Linked DNA regions of Homo sapiens. The protein of the gene in region 1 purifies or fractionates together with the protein of each later gene. This does not show direct contact. Each region holds a gene or a part of one and is shown in the gene's direction. Other genes may lie near its edges.

What was found.
Region 2: the proteins of IFFO2 (region 1) and P4HA2 purify together in Homo sapiens (co-immunoprecipitation; one large-scale study listed by IntAct). This does not show direct contact.

What each region holds. Positions count from the first base shown.
Region 1 is NC_000001.11:18,950,117-18,953,927, reverse strand, and holds part of IFFO2 (intermediate filament family orphan 2), read left to right. Parts: intron 1-3,811.
Region 2 is NC_000005.10:132,193,152-132,196,962, reverse strand, and holds part of P4HA2 (prolyl 4-hydroxylase subunit alpha-2 isoform 2 precursor), read left to right. Parts: intron 1-1,482; coding exon 1,483-1,551; intron 1,552-1,940; coding exon 1,941-2,037; intron 2,038-3,811. UniProt on the Homo sapiens protein: Catalyzes the post-translational formation of 4-hydroxyproline in -Xaa-Pro-Gly- sequences in collagens and other proteins.

The sequences.
Region 1 (3,811 bases):
CAGGCTTGTGTTGTGTTTGTTTTATTGTGTGTGTGCTTTTTGGACCTGGCTACTAAGGTGATGGAAAAACCGTGCCCAGTCTTGGAGGGAGATGGGTTGGCATTGAGCAACGATCTATTCAAGTTGCACCCAGGGCGTGGGGTGTGATGTCAGCTTCTGGCGCTGGCCTGGAATGAGACGGTGCTGCTGAGACAGGTGGAGTGCGGGCGTCTCTCTTCCCGCCCTTCTGGGATGCGTGCACACCTTGTCTTCCATTTATTTTCTGAAGTTAACTCAAGACTCATGTTGGATTTTTCCAAAGCAGGTATATTCCTTTCCTGGGGCCTCAGTTTCCCCGTCTGTGAAGTGAGGTTGAGGGGGGGCTAGAATTGCGGTCCTTGAAACCCCAGGCTTTCTTAGAGATGCTTTAGGGTTTCCTTGAATATCTAATAAAAATGATCATTTAAAAGAACATTAAGACGTTAATACAGTGATAAAAATGTGCTCACCCACCTTTAAGTTCTTAATATTAACTCACTGGGTTCTACTAACATGCTAACTTGTTAGTAGTATGTTTTGGGTATCCCTAAGAATTTTCTTTGGGGAGGAGGGCAGACATTTGATAAACATTTTTTAAAAAGTTGAAAAACCACTGGGCTAGATGATCTCAAAGGGTCTTCCCAGCCTTGGCAATATATAAATCTGAGTTTGAGCTCCCAGCCCGCTTCTGATCCCCTGGCCATAAGAGAAGTCACCGTCTAAGGGATGAGACCCAGGTGTCTGCCTGGACTGTTGTGGCCATGAAGGGCTTTAAATCATCCCAGGATATCTATTACAGAACTCCAAGCAATGATGCCCAGAAGGAGCCTAACCCAGAAGGGAAAGGTTCCAGGGTTTCCCCTGGTCCACCTGGAGGAAGCTGCAGCTCCAGAGACCCCCACTTGCTTCCCCAAAGGACAACTTAGGCTGCGAGGCTCAGCGATCTTCAAGCCGGACGCTTGTTGAGTTCCACCTCCATGATTTCTGGCCACATCCATGTACTACCGCCTGTGCTATTACGTACATAAAATATTTTAACAACTTCATTGAGGTACAACTTGCATATCACAAAAACTGCCCATTTTAAGTGTACAAGTCAAGATGAGTAAATTCACAGAGTTGTGCAGTCATTACCACAATCCCGTTTTAGGGCATTGCATCAGCCCCCAAAAAGATCCTTCATGTCCATTTACAGAAAATTCCAATTCCAAGCCCAGCCCAGGTAATCACTGACCTGCTCTGTCTCTAGAAACTAGCCTTTTCCGGACATTTCATAGAAATAGAAACATACACTCTGCAGTCTTTTGTGTTTGGCTTTTTTCACTTAGAGAATTTTTTTTGAAGTTCATCCATGTTGTAGCATGTATTTGTAGGCTGTTCCTTTTTATAGCTAAAAATATTCCTCTGTAGTATAGACCATATTGTGTTTATGAATCCACCCAGGTATTCAATGTATTTTAAATTTAAAACGTCAACTGTATACCACCGAGCATCATCTCATGTGCCATCAGTGGTCCACAAACTGTGCTTTGGAAACACCAACCCAAACCAGAGCCCCTGGCCTGGGGTGCCTGGGTCCTGGCCCCAGTCACCACTGCTTTGGTTTTCCCTTGGCCCAACCAGGTCTTTACCACGTGGGAAATGTGGTCGCTGAAGCCGCAATGAGGACGAGGTTGTCAAGCGTTGATTTGGAAACCAAAACAAACATCTCTACTCTGTCACCACCCAGGGCCACTAAAATATCTTGTTCTGACTTTGCAAGCTGGGGGCTTTTCCCTGGAGTTTCCCACTGAGTTTATCTGAACTCAACAGTGGAGAGTTCCCTGAGTTGGCATCCAGGAGACCTGGACTTTAGGTCCAGCTCTGCCACTAGGTGCTGTGTGACCTCTGGCCAACCGCTGCCCTCTCTGGGCCTCAGCTCCTCCACCTTTACATGCAGGAGTTCCTGTGGGTGATCTCTCTCAGCTTGCTCTCTACTTTAGGTCAGTGACTCCAAGAGGCCCGTGTTGTGGCTGATCTTTCTGCCTCTGGAGACCACACTGTGTTCGCTGAAGCCTTTCTCTGTTCTGGGCTTCCCCTTCCCTCTCCTATCTCTGCCCCAGATAACTAGGGTCCAGGCTCCAGGCATAGGCAGCGCTGGCCATCCCATCCCCAGGCTTAACCGGTTCAACCGTTTCCCCTGTCTTCATTGGCTCCAAGGAAGGATGCAGGAAATCTTTAAGGCTGTCAAGAAAAAGGTCCCTCCAGCCTGGCAGCTGTCACAAAGTTGCCATGGACTGGTAGGGGAAGTTGCCCTGGGCTGGTAGAGGAAGTTGCCCGGCGCTAGTAGTGCTGGCCTAGCTGCCTATCAGACAGGGCGACTCTTTTGGGGGCCTGGTGTCCCTGTCCAGAAGCCTGTCCAGCCATCCTGGCCCCCTCAGGCCTAGTGTGATTTGCAGCTGGCTGGCCTGGTTCCCTCCCGTGCGAGTGGCTGACTGTATGCGCCCCCCAGTTGAAGTCAGCCTGGAGGCTAGGTTTCTTTTTTTCCTGGTGCCTGGGGTGATTGGAGGGTGGTTTGGGAGCCTGGAGAGACCACTGTGATCATTCAGCCTGGTGGCTTTCAGGTGGGCTTTTTAGAGCCCTGGAGTCCATAGCAGGGCGCCTTGGGAGACTCGGGGGACAGTGGGAGGCTGAGTACCTGAGATTTGACCCATGTTGCCCACCATAGCTCCATGCCTCTCTGACTCCCAGACTGTCCAAAAAGTATTCCATTTTAAAAAGGGTTCTGCTGTTTTAAAAAGAAAGAAACCGCTGATTCAGCTGAGTACTTTCATTTTAAAGGTGGGGAAACCAAGGCCCAGAGGGGGGCTGGCCCTCAGTGCTGAGCTGGACAGACCTTCCATCTGCCGTGCAGAGCTGGCCTCCCCGCCTCGACATGATGCCCGCATCATCCGCCAGCAGTCGAGGCTTTGTTATGTTCTTTCCACCTTTTTGTATGTCTGTTTTAAACATTTTTTTAAAAAGCCACTTTCTGGGATGGGAGGGACTTTTGTCACAGCTATTTCTGACTGTGAGCCGGAAGGGGCTGGGCTGTCGGCTGGAATGGAGGACTCCAAAAAGGGATGGTGGGTGGGTCAGCTGGAGTGTCCCCCGCCCATTCCCGTCACACCCCAGGGGGGCCCTCAAGCAGGTGGGTGCTGGCCCCTGAATGTCCCGAAGCCCGAAGGCTGCCCTGGAATAGAAAGCTGAGGGCTTTGTTCCCTGCCACTCCCATTGACACTTTCGTTATTTCTGAAGCTGGCACCGATACGGATTCTTTATTTCTGATTTTCCAGTGAGGCAGCCTTCGATGGTGGAAAAGGGTTTTGCATCCTGGCTCTGCCACTGTCTGTGTGAACATGGGCAAGTGGCTTGGCCTCTCTGAGCTGCCCGTGGAGCTCCCCGCTTCGTCCTCTGTAAAAGAGGGATCATCTTGTTGCTCTCCCAGGGATTGAGAAGGAACAAATGAGGTCTGGTGTTAAGGTACCTGGGGCTTGGCAGATTTTGGGCATACCTACCTCCACCCCAGCCCAGCCCCCTTCCCCTGGCAAAGTCTGTTCCTTTAATTTACAAGGATTTCTCAGCATGGCCCTGACTGCCTAACAAGTCCATTTCAGGGCATGTCGCCGCTCTCTCTGTCCCATGGAGGCGCCAGAGATGGTGTTGGGGGTGGAGGGAGAACGGCTGCTTCTTTGTCCGGCATCTAAGAAGGCTGTTTGACCTACTCTTAGCAGTTGATTTGTGCCTCCGGAAATCTCTCGCCATCCCCCAGCCC
Region 2 (3,811 bases), on another chromosome or scaffold:
GAGCAGAACATATGTGGTCTCTCTTGTGCTTGAGGTCCAATATGAGAGACTTATTTTAAACATCAGAGAGATTCTTCTTTATCTTTTTTTTTTTTTTTTTTTGAGACAGACTCTCCCTCTGTTGCCCAGGCTGGAGTGCAGTGGCGCTATCTCAGCTTACTGCAAACTCTGCCTCCCAGGTTCAAGCGATTCTCCTGCCTCAGCCTCCCAAGTAGCTGGGATTATAGGCGTGCACCACCATGCCCAGCTAATTTTTGTATTTTTAGTAGAGATGAGGTTTCACCATCTTGGCCAGACTGGTCTCAAGCTCCTGACCTCAAGTGATCCACCCGCCTTGGCCTCCCAAAGTGCTGGCATTACAGGCGTGAGCCACCATGCCCAGCCTAAACATCAGAGAGATTATTATGTAGTTATGGAGACAGGTGCTGTGAACCCCAGGCTTGGGGTTCAGTGGAGGCCTCTCTTTGGAAGTAACATATCAGTTGAGACTTAAAAGTTGAGTGGAAATTAGCTGGTAGAACATGGTTTCTGGCAGAAGAGAGAGTGTATGTAGTCCTGTAAGAGAAAAGGAACTTGGGATGTTGGAAAGGTAGAAAAAGGCTGGTGTGTCTGGAGAGAGGCTAGTGAGACTGACAGGGCCTTGGGGTTCTAGAAAAGAATCTGAGTTTGATCCACAGGGCTGTGAGAAGCCATCAGAGCTTTTGTCTTATTCATTTACCATATGTCTGTCAAGTACCCTTCAGTGAGTCTGGTATGTGTCCTGTGGAAATATTTTTTACCTCCAATTTTTATTAAATTATGGACAAAAAAAGTAAGAGAGCCAGATGGGAAAGAAGTAGTGCTTTGGCCATGAGTCAAGGCATGCTCTGTGGGCATGAGTACAGCCTTGCTAGTGTGGAACTTGTGTTCAATGTAGTTTAAGGCCTTACCATAGGAGAAAGCAGGGCCTCTAGAGACACAGTGCCCCACCCTTCCACTCAGTTGGCCCCAGGAAGGGTGGCTACTCTGGGAAGGTGAAGGTCTGACTAGAGCAGCAAACTACTAGAGCCAGAGAAACAGAGCTGCAGTGGGGACTGCACATGGTGTTGGAAACAGTACAGAGCTCCTGGTCAGGGCACTTTGCAGAGTACAGTGGCTTAGGCAAGGCCAAGGCTAGATGGGGATTCAAAGGGTGGGGTCAGAACAGGCATTTTCTGAGTACAGACTCAGATTATTTTCATCCAGGGACAGCCCGGATGTGGGTCTCCTGTGGGCCTCAACTCTTGAACACTCATGACATGGAGACTGTTCTAATGAATCACACTGGTTAAGTAGGCATGGGAAGAGCCTTTCTTGGCTAAAGGGCTGGCCATGGAGCAGACACCAAGTAGTGTCACTCATGCTGAGAGGAGGGCAATCTATATACCTTGTCATGTCCTTTGTGGCTCAATTGCTCTGAGAGCCTTGGGTAGGAGGGTCAAGCTCTATGTCTTATATTTCCAGATGAGTGATGTAGAAGCTGGTGGTGCCACCGTCTTCCCTGATCTGGGGGCTGCAATTTGGCCTAAGAAGGTAAGTTCTGATTCTTGTGGGTCAGAGGTTGAAGCAAGGCTCAGACTTTACTTTGTCCATGTCCCCCAGTACCATTACCTGGCCTGCCTGATTGTCACTGTGATGTGCCTTAGCCCACCTGGGGTCTGACCTGGTAGCCCAGCTTCTCCCTGTGAAGAAAGGACAGGGAGGGAAGTCCCTTCAGGGGCGGGTGAGTTCCCAGACTTCTACCTCAGAAAGGTAGGTGCTTTCTGGGAAATGTCTCTGTTGCTGGAGTCCCAGAGCCCTATCCCCTGTCCATGGGAAAATGAGGGTGTTTCTGCTCAGGGCAGAGCTTCTGTGATGCTTGCAGTCAGGTCCCTGAGCACAGTCTCTTAAGAATGTGTTCTGAAAGGCCATCTCTTTCCCAGGGTACAGCTGTGTTCTGGTACAACCTCTTGCGGAGCGGGGAAGGTGACTACCGAACAAGACATGCTGCCTGCCCTGTGCTTGTGGGCTGCAAGTGGGGTGAGTGTCTTAAGGGGTAGTGTTGGTGTTGGTGGCCTCAGCTTGGGCTTTGCTTATTGGCCTTAGATTCTGAGCTGGGAGGCAACTGCTGCCAAATTTGCTGAGACTGTCTCCCTTCTTAGGTTTTTTTCTGCTGTTATTACCATCCAGCCATGTAATGTCCATGCAGCTGGTAAATGCCAAGGCAGCTGGTTGGAAACACTCAGAGATACACAGGAAGCTGAAGAAGGCCTGAGGACGAATAGCTGCATAAGCACCATAGGTCCAGGACCCTCTGGCAAGGCTTCTGAGGGAGCAGAGTGGAGAGCTGGAAGCAGTGAGGGGAAAGAGTGTCTCAGGCAAACAAGGCCCATATGGATGGAGGCACAGGCTAAAACCAGCATACGGGTGTGGGGGCTGGCTCCCTTGTCACTTGAAGAAAGGGAGGCCTGTGGCACAGGGGCCAGAAGATGAGGCTGGAGGCTGGGACCAAACTGCAGAGGCTCAAGCTTGAGCCTTATCCTGGGAGCAGTTGTGGTGAGCCTCGGAGAGGCTCAAACCAGGATATGACAGGAAGTGTTTGTAAGGAGATGAGTGTGTAGCCCCCTTGGAGAGTTTTGAAGATAAATAGTGATAGGTTTGCAGATAATTAAGCAAATGGAAAAGAAAACAAGGCAGTTGCTGAATTCAGGGGAAAAAAAGTTGTACAAGAAAGGAAATGTAAGTATAATCTACTAGATGGCTCAGGTGTAACACATGATATAATTATGTACACACTGAGTATTACTTTAACTAAAACTTATGATTTACCTGTACTGGAAAGGTGGGAGGGGATGAGTTTGTGTTTTAGGGGTAGAATAAAAGAATTCCAAAGTTGAAAGTCAAGGAATAGAACTATAAGCATCTTATCTAGAAAAATGAGGTTAAATATCAGAAGAAACAGCTAGAGGAGTTTAATGTTCCCTGGGAGTGGAGATTAGGGATGGGAAGGAGAGGCTTAGGAGGAGTGCTATTTATCATTATAAGCCTTGCGACAATTTTATTTTTTTCAATGAAGTACATGTTATTACTTTATATTTTAAAAGCTCTGTGACTTCAGTAGTGCATTGAAATAAAATTTTTATTCATTATGAGAGAGTCTGTGAGGAACAGAATCATGGTTCCTGTGTGTTTGAAGATATGGCGTGGGGTGATAGTGCTGGCAGCAGCTCTGTTGCTCTTGTGCCCATGGCATACAGACTGGATCTGCTGGTCCACGGCTCCTGAGGTTAATGTCCAAGCCCTCTGCAATGCTGACAGTCTTCCTCATCCTCACACCCTACCTCTCAGTTTCTACCTGCCACCTCCCAGTAATATTAGGCCTCTTGAGTCCCCAACACACGTCAGGGTGGCTTCTGCCTTGATTACTTTCTCATCCTGTTGTCACTCCTGGGACCCTCTTGGTGAGAGAACCATCTGGGTATGCCCATCTTCTTCCCAGGATAACTTCTATGTAGCTTTATATTCTAGCCCTAGGATTTCCTCTTCCCTCTAAGAGCAAGAAACATGTGTGCAGGTTGCCATGGGAATAGAGCCAAAGGGCATCAAAGGTCATGGGCATGAAAGGGCATGATTAGATGCCCTTGGGTGCTATTCCCATGGCAACCTGCACACATGTATCTTGTCCCACTGGCAGAATTTCATACAATTATCTGTTTACATGTGTCTTCCTTACCAATTCTTCAGCAAATTGAGGCCTGAGATCATGTCTTGTCTTATTTGTGTCTGATTCCAGGGCACAGTGCAGGGGGTCATC